Linked DNA regions of Homo sapiens. The protein of the gene in region 4 purifies or fractionates together with the protein of the main gene of each other region. This does not show direct contact. Each region holds a gene or a part of one and is shown on either strand. Other genes may lie near its edges.

Region 1 (3,500 bases), on a different chromosome or scaffold from region 4:
GGATGAAACAAAGACACTATTAACCCTCATCCACCAGATTTCACTTTAACACCCAAGGGTGCCCTCATCAAATCCCAGTTAGAATCGCCAGCACTCAGCAGGGGTGGCAAACACAATGCCTCCAAGCCCAAATGGCTAAAGCAGGCAGAATGGAACACAAGAGGTAACAACAGGTAAAGGAGGATTGCAGGGGAGAGCAGAGGAGAGGACAGCAGAGAGCAGCCAACAGCCGGTAAAGGCATTCAAGTTCAATATTTAAAAATCCTGCCGGCTAGGTGCAGTGGCTCACGCACCTGTACTCTGAGCTACTCAGGAGGAGGCTGAGGTGGGAGTATCACTTGAAGCGATCTGAGTTCAGATCAGTCTGGGTAACAAGGCAAGACCACCGCCCCCTCCATTTAAAAATCCTGAGCAACGTTTTTTTTTTTTTTTTTTTGAGACAGAGTCTCGCTGTGTCGCCCAGGCTGGAGTGCAGTGACACAATCTCAGCTCATTGCAACCTCTGCCTCCCAAGTTCAAGCGATTCTCCTGCCTCAGCCTCCCAGGTAGCTTGGGTTACAGGCACCTGCCACCACACCTGGCTAATTTTTGTATTTTCAGTAGAGACAAGGTTTCACCATGTTGGCCAGGCTGATCTGGAACTCCTGACCTCAAGTGATCCGCCTGCCTCGGCCCCCCAAAGTGCTGGGATTACAGGCGTGACCCAATGCGCCCTGCCCAATAATTATTTATGTTATCTTTTTCCACTTGGCCAAATGTTAAAAAGTTATTTCTCATTTATGATCAAGATTTCGACCAGCATCTCACTTGTAGTCACTGTTCTTAGCATTATAACTGAGAGCAGGATTATCGCTTGGCTCTTCAGCACTGAGTTCAAATTTCTCAGATGCAGTTTATGAGCTCATGCAGGCTACAGAGGCAGGAGGTCAATCCCAGGTGAAAACAAATGAAATGCTTCAAAGGAGCTAGTAACTAAGCATCCTAAAGCACTTAACTAGTTAATTATCTGGTGAGAAGCAAATGTAAACAAATTGCTCCAAAAAAGGTCCCTCAGAGTGTGGGCTCAGGCCTAACAGCCAGGGCTGGACCGACCACATGATTTCCTCCCCGGACCAGGAATAATAGCACCTACACCTCACAAGGTCACTGCTAATGATTGTAAAAATGCACTCCCCCTGGGCTGTAGGCAGCCATACAACATATATCTTAGAAGCTCTTCCAAAAAGGGCCCGAGGAACTTGGGAGCTTCCCACAGGCTGCGCGCTTGTTCGCCAGTGAGATGAACAACTAGATAGCAGAAACACTACTGACATATGGAAGGTCACAAATGTTTTTATAAGCTAGGAAGGGCTGGGCTGGGAATTGTTCTCAAGGTCAGTGAAGAGTGGTGACAGTCCTGACCTTTCCAGACTCAAGTCATACTTTCCTTCTATACAATCTCATCTAATCGCCATGGCCCCTGAAGAATGCAATTTTAGCTGTACATATTTATTATTCCTTTTAGAAAGGAATGACTGTTATTTCCTGTGTTCCTTTTATAAGGGAACGAGTTTGTTGGGGGGAGGGGCTGGCTTACTGTGATGGGCATTTTGAAATGTCTCACCGTCAAGGACAAGATTCTCTGTCTCGGACCGGGCGCGGTGGCTCACGCCTGTAATCCTAACACTTTGGGAGGCCGATGTGGGCAGACTGCCTGAGCTCAGGAGTTCCAGACCAGCTTGGGCAACATGGTGAACCCGTCTCTACTAAAATACAAAACATGAGTCGGGCATGGTGACATGAGCCTGTAGTCCCAGCTACTTGGGAGGGTGAGGCATGAGAATTGCTTGAACCCGGAAGGCAGAGGTTCAGTGAGCAGAAATTGCGCCACTGCACTCTAGCCTGGGTGACAGAGAGAAACTCCTTCTCAAAAAAAAGAAAAAAAAATTATCTGTCTCCATACAGACTATTGGGGTTTGTTGCTAATTTCTGTGGGGCATGGTTTTACCTTAATATCCTGCACAGAGCTAGATGTTAAAGAGAAGGATGCTTGGTAGGAGCAAACGGTTTTAAGAAAAACACTCAAAGGCCAGGCGTGGTGGCTCACGCTTGTAATCCCAGCATTTTGGGAGGCCGAGGCGGGCGGATCACGAGGTCACGAGTTTGAGACCGGCCTAGCCAACACAGTGAAACCCCATCTCTACTAAAAATACAAAAATTGGCTGGGTGTAGTGGCGAGCACCTGTAATCCCAGCTACTTGGGAGGCTGAGGCAGGAGAATCGCTCGAACCCGGGAGGCAGAGGTTGCAGCGAGCTGAGATTGCGCCACTGCACTCCAGCCTCGGCGACAGAGCTAGACTCCGTCTCAAAAAAACAAAACAAAACAAAAACACTCAAGAAGAGAAATCTCTATGGATACTACATTAAAATTTTTTTATTTTATTTTATACTTTGGCCACAGATTTAAGTAGCTAAACTCAACCTTCTCCTAGGAAACCAACAGGTCAGTAGTTTTCCTGACAGAACACACCTTGTAGAGGCTAGCTACCTGATACAGCCAGAAACTGATGCTAGCTGTCGGGGCCAACAGCAGTGGAGAGGTGGAAACTGGAAAGGGCTGGCCCCTGGAATGTTTTCAGTCATCAGACCTAGACAACTGTGACTTTTCTCTGCAGGACTGCACCAACAGTTTTAGAAAGACGCACTAAATCCTCTCCTGTCATAGAAGTAAAAACAAGAAGGCCTGTGATTGCTGGAATTTCTAGCCCACGGCAACCATGGCAGCTCTCTTGATACCCAGAGCACGCTGGGAACAGGCCCTCCCATGCAGCCAATGAAAAAAGGGCTGAGAAGTTACTAGTGAAAAGCTCATTATCCTCCTTTCTTTGAAGCCACAGTGAAACCAACCTTTTTCCAGAGTCCCAGGGACAGACTGCTCAGCAGAATCATGCCTAAACTGCCCAACTGCTTCACAGAAAGCCCCTTCTGAGGACATCACAGTCCATAAGGCTCAACCTTTCCAGAAAGACTAGCACCAACTGAGAGGTGGCCCCTTTAGGCATGGTGTATCTGGAACTGTGCTTTCTGTGATACCACAAATCTTAAATGCCTTCTTTTTACTGCAGGGACAGACATAAAGAAATCAGCACCAGATAGCCCCAAACTAATTGATCTCTTTTTTCCCACTACCCATAGCCTTTTTTTGTTGTTTTGTTGTACATGTTCCAAAATGACAGCAGCTACACAAAGCATTGGGGACCCCAGAGTGAAGCGGCAGTCACACTTTGGGGAGAATGGCCTCTTCTCCAAAGAAAGAGAAGAAAATCAAAGTTCTGATCTCCTGAATTTAATCTAACTATGGGCCGGGTGTGGTGGCTCACGCCTGCAATCCCAGCACTCCGGGAGGCTGAAACGGGAGGATCACTTATGTTCAGGCATTCGAGACCAACATGGGCAACATGGTGAGACCCTGTCTCTACAAAAAAATCAAAAATAGTCAGGTGTGGTGGCGCATGCCTGTA
Region 2 (3,500 bases), on a different chromosome or scaffold from region 4:
TGCCTGTTCACTCTGATGGTAGTTTGTTCTGCTGTGCAGAAGCTCTTTAGTTTAACTAGATCCCATTTGTCAATTTTGGCTTTTGTTGCCATTGCTTTTGGTGTTTTAGTCATGAAGTCCTGCCATGCGTATGTCCTGAATGGTATTGCCTAGATTTTCTTCTAGGGTTTTAATGGTTTTAGGTCTAACATTTAAGTCTTTAATCCATCTTGAATTAATTTTTGTAAGGTGTAAGGAAGGGATCCAGTTTCAGCTTTCTACATATGACTAGCCAGTTTTCCCAGCACCATTTATTAAATAGGGAATCCTTTCCCCATTTCTTGTTTTTGTCAGGTTTGTCAAAGATCAGATGGTTGTAGATGTGTGGTATTATTTCTGAGGGCTCTGTTCTGTTCCATTGGTCTATATCTCTGTTTTGGTACCAGTACCATGCTGTTTTGGTTACTGTAGTCTTGTAGTATAGTTTGAAGTCAGGTAGCGTGATGCCTCCAGCTTTGTTCTTTTGGCTTAGGATTGTCTTGGCGATGTGGGCTCTTTTTTGGTTCCATATGAACTTTAAAGTAGTTTTTCCAATTCTGTGAAGAAAGTCCTTGGTAGCTTGATGGGGATGGCATTGAATCTATAAATTACCTTGGGCAGTATGGCCATTTTCATGATATTGATTCTTCCTATCCATGAGCATGGAATGTTCTTCCATTTGTGTCCTCTTTTATTTCATTGAGCAGTGGTTTGTAGTTCTCCTTGAAGAGGTCCTTCACATCCCTTATAAGTTGGATTCCTAAGTATTTTATTCTCTTTGAAGCAATTTTGAATGGGAGTTCACTTATGATTTGACTCTCTGTTTATCTGTTATTGGTGTATAGGAATGCTTGTGATTTTTGCACATTGATTTTGTATCCTGAGACTTTGCTGAAGTTGCTTATCAGCTTAAGGAGATATTGGGCTGAGACGATGGGGTTTTCTAGATATGCAATCATGTCATCTGCAAACAGGGACAATTTGACTTCCTCTTTTCCTAATTCAATACCCTTTATTTCTTTCTCCTGCCTGATTGCCCTGGCCAGAACTTCCAACACTATGTTGAATAGGAGTGGTGAGAGAGGGCATCCCTGTCTTGTGTGACAGTTTTCAAAGGGAATGCTTCCAGTTTTTGCCCATTGATTATGATATTGGCTGTGGGTTTGTCATAAACAGCTCTTATTATTTTGAGATACATCCCATCAATACCTAGTTTATTGAGAGTTTTTAGCATGAGACGCTGTTGAATTTTGTTGAAGGCCTTTTCTGCATCTATTGAGATAATCATGTGGTTTTTGTCTTTGGTTCTGTTTATATGATGGATTACGTTTATTGATTTGCATATGTTGAACCAGCCTTGCATCCCAGGGATGAAGCCAACTTGATCATGGTGGATAAGCTTTTTGATGTGCTGCTGGATTCGGTTTGCCAGTATTTTATTGAGGATTTTTGCATCGATGTTCATCAGGCATATTGGTCTAAATTCTCTTTTTTTGTTGTGTCTCTGCCAGGCTTTGGTATCAGGATGATGCTGGCCTCATAAAATGAGTTAGGGAGGATTCCCTCTTTTTCTATTGATTGGAATAGTTTCAGAAGGAATGGTACCAGCTCCTCTTTGTACCTCTGGTAGAATTCGGCTGTGAATCCGTCTGGTCCTAGACTTTTTTTGATTGGTAGGCTATTAAATATTGCCTCAATTTCCGAACCTGTTACTGGTCTATTCAGAGATTCAACTTCTTCCTGGTTTAGTCTTGGGAGGGTGTATGTGTTGAGGAATTTATCCATTTCTTCTAGATTTTCTAGTTTATTTGCATAGAGGTGTTTATAGTGTTCTCTGATGGTAGTTTGTATTTCTGTGGGATTGGTGGTGATATCCCCTTTATTAGTTTTTATTGCATCTATTTGATTCTTCTCTCTTTTTTCTTCTTTATTAGTCTTGCTAGTGGTCTGTCAATTTTGTTAATCTTTTCAGAAAACCAACTCCTGGATTCATTGATTTTTTGAAGGGTTTTTTGTGTCTCTATTTCCTTCAGTTCTTCTCTGATCTTAGTGATTTCTTGCCTTCTGCTAGCTTTGGAATGTGCTTTCTCTTGCTTCTCTAGTTCTTTTAATTGTGATGTTAGGGTGTCAATTTTAGATCTTTCCTGCTTTCTCTTGTGGGCATTTAGTGCTATAAATTTCCTTCTACACACTGCTTTAAATGTGTCCCAGAGATTCTGGTATGTTGTGTCTTTGTTCTCGTTGGTTTCAAAGAACATCTTTGTTTGTGCCTTCATTTCGTTATGTACCCAGTTGTCATTCAGGAGCAGGTTGTTCAGTGTCCATGTAGTGGAGCAGTTTTGTTTTGAGTGAGTTTCTTAATCCTCAGTTCTAGTTTGATTGCACTGTGGTCTGAGAGACAGTTTGTTATAATTTCTGTTCTTTTATATTTGCTGAGGAGTGCTTTACTTCCAACTATGTGGTCAATTTTGGAATAAGTGTGATGTGGTGCTGTGAAGAATGTATATTTTGTTGATTTGGGGTGGAGAGTTCTGTAGATGTCTATTAGGTCCGCTTGGTGCAGAGCTGAGTTCAATTCCTGGGTATCCTTGTTAACTTTCTGTCTTGTTGATCTGTCTAATGTTGACAGTGGGGTGTTAAAGTCTCCCATTATTATTGTGTGGGAGTCTAAGTCTCTTTGTAGGTCTCTAAGGGCATGCTTTATGAATCCGGTGCTCCTGTATTGGGTGCATATATATTTAGGATAGTTATATGCACCCATATATATTTAGGATAGTTAGCTCTTGTTGAATAGTCTTTTTCTATTGTTTTAATTTCAACTTGCCTATATTCTGTTTGAAGTGAGTTGTAGACAGCATATAGTTGAGTCATGTTTTTAATCCACTTTGGCAATCTTTGTCTTTTAATTGTATTTAGACCACTTACATTTAATTATTGATATTAAATCTTTAGTTTATTTCGTGTTTTCTGTTTGTTATGCTTTTCATTTCTTGATTTGCTTTTTTTCTGCCATCCTGTGGATAGCTGAACATTTTTCAGAATTTCATTTGTTTTTGAGAATATCTCTTCATATAACTTTTTTAGTGGTCGCCCTAGGTTGTATATTATATGTACATAACAGTTTACTGGTGTCACCAGTTCAAGTAAAGTATAGAAACCTTGCCTCCTTTTATTATTCTCTACCATCTCCTTTTTATAATTGTCTTAAACATTTGCCTTATGTACGTACATCTAGAACCATATTAGAGAATTTTATGATTTTTGTTTCAAATGTCAAACATAATTTAGAACACTCAAGAGAAGGAAAGCTTATTGTATTTACCTATATCTTTGCTTACTGTGTTCTTTTTTTTTCTTTTTGATGTTCCAGGATCTTCTCTTTTATCATTTCTTTTTTGTTTAGATAACTTCCTTTAGTCATTCTATGAAGATACGTCTGCTGGTGACAAATTTTCCTATTTTTCCTTCTTCTTAGAATATCT
Region 3 (4,147 bases), on a different chromosome or scaffold from region 4:
CACAGAGCAGATGGTGCTGCGAGTTAGGGTCACCAGAGAGCATGTGGGGGACTCTGAAAGCTCCTGCAGGGTCCCATGAGCATTTCTTTGAAGCACTAACTGTGGAATCCTGAGCTCATACCCATCTTCTTCCCGGCCTTGCCCCCTGGTGCTCAGGGCCCTTCCAGTGTTCCTCCCTCCTCTATGGGCTGGAGCTGGGGCTGGGGCTGGGGCTGGGCACTATGGGACAGCAGGCAGGCAAGGTGCCTCCTTAGCGGAGGGAGGCAGAGGCAGTACCAAGAGGACAGGCACTATCAGCGGTGGCCCAATGGCTGCCCCTGGCAGGCAGCTCCTTAGCCACAATGTAACAGAGGCTCCTGGCCAGTTGGTGGGATGCGCCCGCCCACCTGCTTCCCCTTTGGGTTGGGGGAGAGGAACCATTTCCCCCCACGCACTGTGCAAAGCCAGGAGGAGTACCGCCTCCCAGCTAGGTCTCTCGTTACCCATCTGTAAGGCTGAGTGGGAGAGACTGAGTACTTCTTCCCCTCCATCCTGCAAGGTGCGACCCGGGCTAGGTTTCCTGGCTCCTGGCAACAGCCTCAGCTCTAGCATGAGAATGTACCTTTTTTGCTGGTTTTGTCTCCACCTGGATGCCGCTGCCTGTGCTGGGACAGCTTTTCTCAGCCCCTGCCCCAAATCCCTAATTCCACCTTTATCCCAGGCCCAACCTCAGCCATCTGGACAGAGCTAGACCCAGATTAGCATCTGTTAGGGGCTACTCTCTCCTAGGGAGGGGGTGGGAAATATCACCTTTGAGGCAGGGGGAGTGAGGGAGCAGCTCTCAGAGCTGGACATTTAACCTGCGCGGGGTTAACACTTACTGTGCACCGTTGCTCATTTCCAATTGCACCTCCCCATAGAGCAGCCTCTGCCTAGCCTCTGCAAGACCTGCCCCTCGCCCCACCCTGGAGCATTTGGGGTGGGGGACCTGCCCAGCCTGCCCCACGCTGGCCTCCCTTCCAGGGGGTGGGGTCCTGCCTATCCCAGCCCCGCCTCCTGGCCCAGGTTCAGGCCCTCCGCCCCTCTTGGCCGACGGCCTCCTCTGGCAGTCTGTTCCAGGTCAGGAGCAGAAAGCGCCCCCCCGAAGCCCCCTCCTTTCCTCGTCCCCCTTCAAGCTTTTCACAAAAGCAGCCCCACGCCCCCCCACAGCCCACAACCCACAAGTCCCTCTCCCCGCGGGACCTAGCCTGTCCCTTTCATGTTCCCGCTGCGGGAGGACCTCCCCTTCCACCACTGCAGACAGCTGCTTGTCAGACAGCCCCTCAAGCATGGCTGTGGTCCGGCCTGCTGGCCCCCCCTCCCAGGGGGGTGAGGGGGCACTTCAAGGGGGAAAGGACCGCTTTGCCACCTTCCCTGAGTCCTGAATGGGGCCTCAGCCAGGCCATAAACGCCCGGCCAGCCGCACCATTGTGCTAGTTCCCCTCCAGAACAGGTTGGGCCCACCCCCAGCCCCCTCCCAGCCAGGCTGGGGGCTTTCTTCTGGCTCCCCCTGGATGTGTGAAGCAAAAGGCCTGGAACGGGGCTGGAGCAAAAGGGGGAAGGAAGGGGGGGGGAATTGTCTCTCCCTCTCCCACCCCCCCACTGCTTCAAAGGCTGCCCCTTTCCCTCTCCCAGAGAAAAGGCATTTACCTTCAAAAAAAGTCCCCACTGGATATGAAGAGAAGCGGGCCTCTGGCCTGGGAAAGCCAAGCGATCTCTCCCCAGAGCGGTTCTGGACCAGTGCATTTTAATAGCTGCACTTTTATGGAGGATCACAAAAAAGGGAGCAAGCCTCGCACTGGGGGCTGAGACTTGGGGGTGGGAGGTGTGCATGGAGGGAGGTGGGGGGCCGACTTGGGGTGGGGGGAGTGTGGAGAAGCGAACCCTGCATCCCGTCCCAAACAAACCTCTTTGGGCTTGACCTCTGTGCCCTCTAGGTGAGGAGTCACCTCACCCTGGCCAGGCATTCTGGACATGCTCACGAGACCCCCACCCCAGGCATCCATATTGATGGGAGTGGGGTGGCGAGAAGGACATACAAGTGGTCTTGCATCAAAACCTGTCCTTTCAGGTACTGGCAAACCCAAGCCTCACCTGAGCCATCACCTCCACCTGCTTCCAACCGCTCCAGGCTCCATCCCTCAAGTCTGGGGGAACCCGATGGAGAGGGAGGAAGAGGAGCAGAGACCCAGGGGAAGTGGGGAGGGTCCTCAGAGGGAGGACAGAGACAAAACCTCAGTCAGCCCCCTTCCCTGCCCACCCGGTCAAAGGCTCACTCCCCTCCAAACCTCAGTGCCTCCTGGACCCAGGGAGAGGCCAGACTCTGCCTCTGTCCACCTGAAAGGAGCCGGTCCCTTGCACCCGCCCTGGTCAGGTAGGGTGGAAAAATTGGGGGAAAGCCGGTGGGAATGCCCGCCTACCTGAGTTTGACAGCAGAGAATCAGCAGCTGTAAGCACCTGTGTGGGGAGAGGAGGTAAGCCCAGGTGTGGGTGCCAGCTGCAAGCCTAGGGTGCACCCAGGCCCCCGCCCCCGCCCTGCCAGCCCCGTGCACGCACGCGTGGGAGTCCCGGGAAGAGGAGGGCTGCCCTGAGGCTGGAAATGGCAACGAAACTCCAGTGGGAGAGGTAGCACACTTACAGAGTGAGGTTGGGCAGCAGGCGGGCGGCTCCCATCGCTGGAGAGGTTCCTCAGGCGGTTGCCCCCCTGCCCCCAAGCTCAGGAGCAGATGTGGGAAGTCCCCAGGGGTAGAGTCCCAGAGAAGCCAAGGTCTCTCCGAGCCACAGGTTTTCAGGGGGGCGAGGAGGAGAGAAAGGGGAGGAGGAGGAGAGAAAAGAGGGAGGAGGAGGGGGAGGAGGAGGGCGTAATTGGGAGACTGAGGTATGAGGTGTCCACCTTCCTGGCCAGTGAGGCTGCAAAGCAGATGCGGGTGGGGGCGTGCGCGCTGTGCCCTCTGGGCTGCCAGTCTCTCCTGGGCCACCCAGTGCAGGGATGGAGCGGTGGGGGCCTTCTGAAGGAGGTGGCCCTGCTGTCTCCTGCTCTATTCCTGACCCTCACAGACTGGCCAAACTCGACGCAGACAAACTCGATGTGTGGCAGGTCAGGGAGGGGGAGCCCTTCCAGGTCTGCGTCTCCTGCACTCAGGTCTGGCGCCCCACCTCCCCAAGGGTGAGCCGCAGGTGTCAAGTGGGGCTGGGGTCTCTGGTTCTGGCTCTGGAGTGGAAATTCCCAGAAGCAGCCTTAAAAGGAGCCGCCTCCCTCCAGGGGGCAGGGGTGGGCTTGGCTTGGAGCAGCTGATTGCCCGGGAAGGAGGGGTTAAGGCTGTCCTGATCGGCAGCAAATACTGGGCGCAACAGGTTGGGGGTCAGAGGTGGGTTGGCAGGTACAGATGGAGATCTAGGAAGAATCCCAATGGAGAGTTGCAAAAGCTAGCCTGAGACAGACACTTGGAGAAGAGCTGGGTGTCCTGGCCTAAGCCCCTTTTCCTTGGGCCTCTGTAGTTCCATCTGAGAAATGAGGACAGTAATGCCTCAGGGTGTTGGGGGGTCAAGTGTGAAATCAGCACATAGCAGACTTCAAGATGTCTGTGTTCTGAGACCCAGCTCCACTCACCATTCTGCATCCCCTTCCTTCCAGTGCCTGTCCCTAGAGCCTCTCTGAGCTAGGAGCAGCTCGGAGTCCCCTCCCTGTGTCCCATGTCCCTGAGCAGCTGCCTGGGATGAAGTGCCTACCAGCCTCTTCCCATGACCTCCGGTCTCATACTGCTCGGTACAATGCCAGCGACTAGCCCATTTTGCAGATGAGGAAACTGAGGCACATTGGGAGGTAGTTTGCTCAGAATGGCCCAGCTAGTGAATGGAATAGCCAGAATGGAAAAGTCCATGCTTCTTCTGTTCTGCATGGATTGAGTTGCCACCCTGCAGATCCAGCCCCAAACCTGCTTCATTGTAGGGATACAGAAGCCTTCCTGGGTTTTCAGGATTAAAGGTGGAATCCGAGGTCCTGGAGACCGGTGAACAGAGAGCTCCATGCTGTTCCCTCCCTACAGAAAAGTGGATGACGGTGACTGCAGAAGATAGGAGGGCTTGGGGGTCTCTGAGGGAAGACCCAGTGTGAGCAAGCAGAGCTCAG
Region 4 (3,666 bases):
CTTACTGAATTTATTAGTTCTAGGAGCTTTTTAGTGAAATCCTTAGGATTTTCTCTATGTAAGATCCTGGTGGTTTTTTCTTTTTTCAGATAGGGTCTCACTACCTAATGGCATGGCTAGATTACACGGTAGACATACTGTTAACTTTTCAAAGAAACTAGCAAACTGTTTTCCAAAGTGGTTGTGACATTTTACATTTCCATCAGATGTGTATTTGACCCTGAATTTTTAAAATTGATCTGATCTCTTCCCCTTGATAGGAAAATCTGAATGTTTCCAGTACCCGGAAGTGTGCCATGTCCTAAAGCCTCGTATATACAAAACAGCATTTAATAAAACCTGAGAGGTACTCTGGGAATATAAAGGAAGCATACTGCCGTTTCTTTTTTGAATGGAAGCAGTGGTCAGGAAAGGGCATACCAAGGGTATGTATAAACTCTTGTTAAGCCTAGCTGCTCACCTAAATCTTGGAAGACTTATGTTTACAAAGAATGAATCTATGACAATGAGAAAAAATTTTATTTATGACGATCTTGAGCAGTATAAAACTCAGAAGCTCCACTGAGGTGAAGGAAACATGGACATGATACTAAGCAAAGCCTAGTCTTTTCCATAAAATGAATAAGAAGTACATTTGGTGGAGTTTGAGACCAGCCTGGGCAACACAGTGAGACCCTGTCTCTAAAAGCATTAAAGCATTAATCCTCGCATTTCGATAGGGCTATGTAGCTTTTAAGTAAGCAATGTTAGAATGAGTTGTAGAGTTTTATTTTTGTGAATATAGTGAGTGACAGATGGCAATTACATGAGGATATTTGAACGAAGGTACATAAGCCTAAACAATTTCACCTAGGTAAAATATTGATGTCATAACCAAACTATATGGCCCCGTTTCATAAAGGTTACTATATTCTATAGAGAGTGAAGAGGTGGCCTTTCTATCCCAGCTTACCCTATTCTTGTTATTGTTCAAATTCTCCTGAAGCTTGCATAACTAGCTGCCATCAGGTAAATGCTATTGGCTAGCAGAAGACTGCAGTTCTGTTAATATTAGAACCAGCAGGGGGAACTTGGGAACTTGACATTAAAAATCTAGAAACAGAATTTTAGGATGGGTCTCGTTAGAAACCTGAATTGTTAATGGACTTAAGTAAAAACCATCCCAAAGAATTTGAGCTTTAAGGTGATAACGTCTTTTCAGAGATCATAGCACATGAAGAACCCATGGACACTACACAGACTATGAACAGTTAGCAGAAAAAGATCTCGTGACTAAAGTGGGGATGACAGCAAAAAAAAAAAATTTACAAAAGGAAAAAAGTTGAGAATACAGGAATATTTACAAGATGTTAAAAAATTATTAATCTTCAGCCAAAATGAGGCCCCTTCGCATTCCCAAAACCTTTGCTTTCTTCTCCTTTCGTTCTTGCTCGCGTTTCTTCCGTTGCTCTTCCCTGAGAGGGATAGGTCACACATTAAGCTCTAGGGAGGCTCCAAAACAGATACTTTAAAGCAACTATTGTTGGACTAACACCCAAACTTCCAAGCAATGACATCCAGCATACTTGTGTAAAACAGACTCTTAGAGGGCACTGTGCTCTGCCTAGTGTTTCTAACACCTGTTCGTCATTGTTGTGTTAAAGGGTTAGAAACTGGTATTTTCCTTTTGTTAACTCAGCACTCTAAAATCATGCATGGAGGCCGGGGCGCGATGGCTCATGCCTGAAATCCCAGCACGTTAGGAGGCCAAGGCAGGCAGATCACTTGAGGTCAGGAGTTCGAGACCAGCCTGGCCAAAATGGTGAAACCCCGTCTCTACTAAAAATACAAAAAAGGTAGCCAGGTGTGGTGGTGCATGCCTATAATCACAGCTACTGGGGAGGCTGAGGCAGGAGAATCCCTTGAACCCGGGAGGCGGAGGTTGCAGTGAGCCGAGATCACGCCACTGCACTCCAGACTGGGCGACAGAATGAGACTGTCTCAAAACAAACAAACAAAAATAAATAATAAAATCATGCATGGAATTGGAGTCAGGAGACACCTTGCTGATTGAATCCAACTCTTGTTATTTTACAGTTTGCTTTAGGCCAGATGCAGTGGCTCACACCTATAATCCCAGCATTTTGGGAGGCCAAGGTGGGAGGATCCCTTGTGCCCAGGAGTTCAAGGCCAAAGTAAGCTATGATCATGCCATTGTACTCCAGTCTGGGTGACAAAAAGTAAGACCCTGTCTCTAAGAAAAAAAAAAAAATTTGTTTTAAATGAGAAATGTCTACACCTAGAAATCAAAGTTGACCAGGTGTGGTAGCTCACGCCTGTAATCCCAGCACTTTGGGAGGCCAAGGTGGGTGGATCACCTGAGATCAGCAGTTTGAGACCAGCTTGGCCAAGATGGTAAAACCCCGTCTCTACTAAAAATACAAAAATTAGCTGCACGCGGGGGCGGGAACCTGTAATCCCAGCTACTCGGGAGGCTGAGGCAGCAGTATCACTTGAACCTGGGAGGCAGAGGTTGCAGTGAGCCAAGATCGCACCACCACACTCTAGCCTGGGCATCAGAGCGAGACTCCATCTCAAAAAAAAAAAAAAAAAAAAAAAAAAACCAAGATAAGTTAATATAATCTTGGGCTTTTTCTTTTTTTTTTTTGGTTTGTCTAATCCTCTGAAAGTAGAGCATAATGGCTAACTCAGTAGATCCTGGTTCTAGTTCTATTCCTTTCACTAAACTATGTGATTTTGAGCTTGACCTTTGACTTTGATTTCTTTTTTCTTTTTTGAGACGGAGTTTTGCTCTTGTTGCCCAGGCTGTAGTGCAATGGTGCAATTTCAGCTCGCCACAACCTCCGCCTCCCGGGTTCAAGTGATTCTGCTGCCTCAGCCTCCCGAGTAGCTGGGATTACAGGTATGTGCCACCACGCCCGGCTAATTTTGTATTTTTAGTAGAGATGGGGTTTCTCCATGTCTTCAACTCCTGACATCGTGATCCACCCGCCTTGGCCTCCCAGAGTACTGGGATTACAGGCGTGAGCCACCTTGCCTGGCCAACTTAATAACGGTGAGCAAAGGCCCTGGTGGCAGTCGTGTATAGCCATGAGTCAACTGACAGGTAACCCTGTGTCACGAGGGTCCAAGCAGGGAATCTGGGCCCAACCATGACTTGCTGCAACCCAGGATGAGCTCTGGCTTTAACTTGGTTTTCATGCTGAAGGAAGCCTCTAAGGACCGTCCTGGGTTTTTCCTCTTTATAGGGCCTTGACGCCTTGTAAGCCTGGTTTTCTTAGGAGTGAGGAATTTATGTCTATCTGGATATGTAGGTGCCCTGGGCTGCTGGGCATTGGTATCTGGAGAGATACCCACATGCCCTGTGTTTAGGCAGATGAGTCATGCAAGAGCAGTGCTCTGAATCTGGGTCTTCTTCTGAATCACCTGCAGAGCCTTGGAAACAATGCAGGTGCTTGGGCCTCACCCCAAATCTGCTGATTTGGAGTCCATTACACTGGAACCTAGGCAGATGTACTCAGAAAGTTATATACACGATACCACTTTTTTTTTTTTTTGAGACGGAGTCTCACTCTGTCGCCCAGGCTGGAGTGCAGTGGCGTGATCTCGGCTCACTGTAAGCTCTGCCTCCCAGGTTCCTGCCTCAGTCTCCCGAGTAGCTGGGAC

Evidence for each region. The genes of interacting proteins can lie anywhere in the genome.
Region 1: the proteins of NUSAP1 (region 4) and SZRD1 purify together in Homo sapiens (co-immunoprecipitation; one large-scale study listed by IntAct). This does not show direct contact.
Region 2: the proteins of NUSAP1 (region 4) and SHCBP1 purify together in Homo sapiens (affinity purification with western blotting, with the first as the bait; one study listed by BioGRID). This does not show direct contact.
Region 3: the proteins of NUSAP1 (region 4) and FGF17 purify together in Homo sapiens (co-immunoprecipitation; one large-scale study listed by IntAct). This does not show direct contact.

Annotation. Positions count from the first base shown.
Region 1 is NC_000001.11:16,373,742-16,377,241, reverse strand, and holds part of SZRD1 (SUZ RNA-binding domain-containing), read right to left. Parts: intron 1-3,500.
Region 2 is NC_000016.10:46,586,880-46,590,379, reverse strand, and holds part of SHCBP1 (SHC SH2 domain-binding protein 1), read left to right. Parts: intron 1-3,500. UniProt on the Homo sapiens protein: May play a role in signaling pathways governing cellular proliferation, cell growth and differentiation. May be a component of a novel signaling pathway downstream of Shc. Acts as a positive regulator of FGF signaling in neural progenitor cells.
Region 3 is NC_000008.11:22,041,473-22,045,619, reverse strand, and holds the start of FGF17 (fibroblast growth factor 17 isoform 1 precursor), read right to left. Parts: upstream 2,801-4,147; 5' UTR 2,692-2,800; coding exon 2,657-2,691; intron 2,476-2,656; coding exon 2,439-2,475; intron 1,072-2,438; exon of another isoform or gene 1-1,071. UniProt on the Homo sapiens protein: Plays an important role in the regulation of embryonic development and as signaling molecule in the induction and patterning of the embryonic brain. Required for normal brain development.
Region 4 is NC_000015.10:41,377,881-41,381,546, reverse strand, and holds the end of NUSAP1 (nucleolar and spindle-associated protein 1), read right to left. Parts: intron 1,455-3,666; coding exon 1,361-1,454; 3' UTR 501-1,360; downstream 1-500. UniProt on the Homo sapiens protein: Microtubule-associated protein with the capacity to bundle and stabilize microtubules. May associate with chromosomes and promote the organization of mitotic spindle microtubules around them.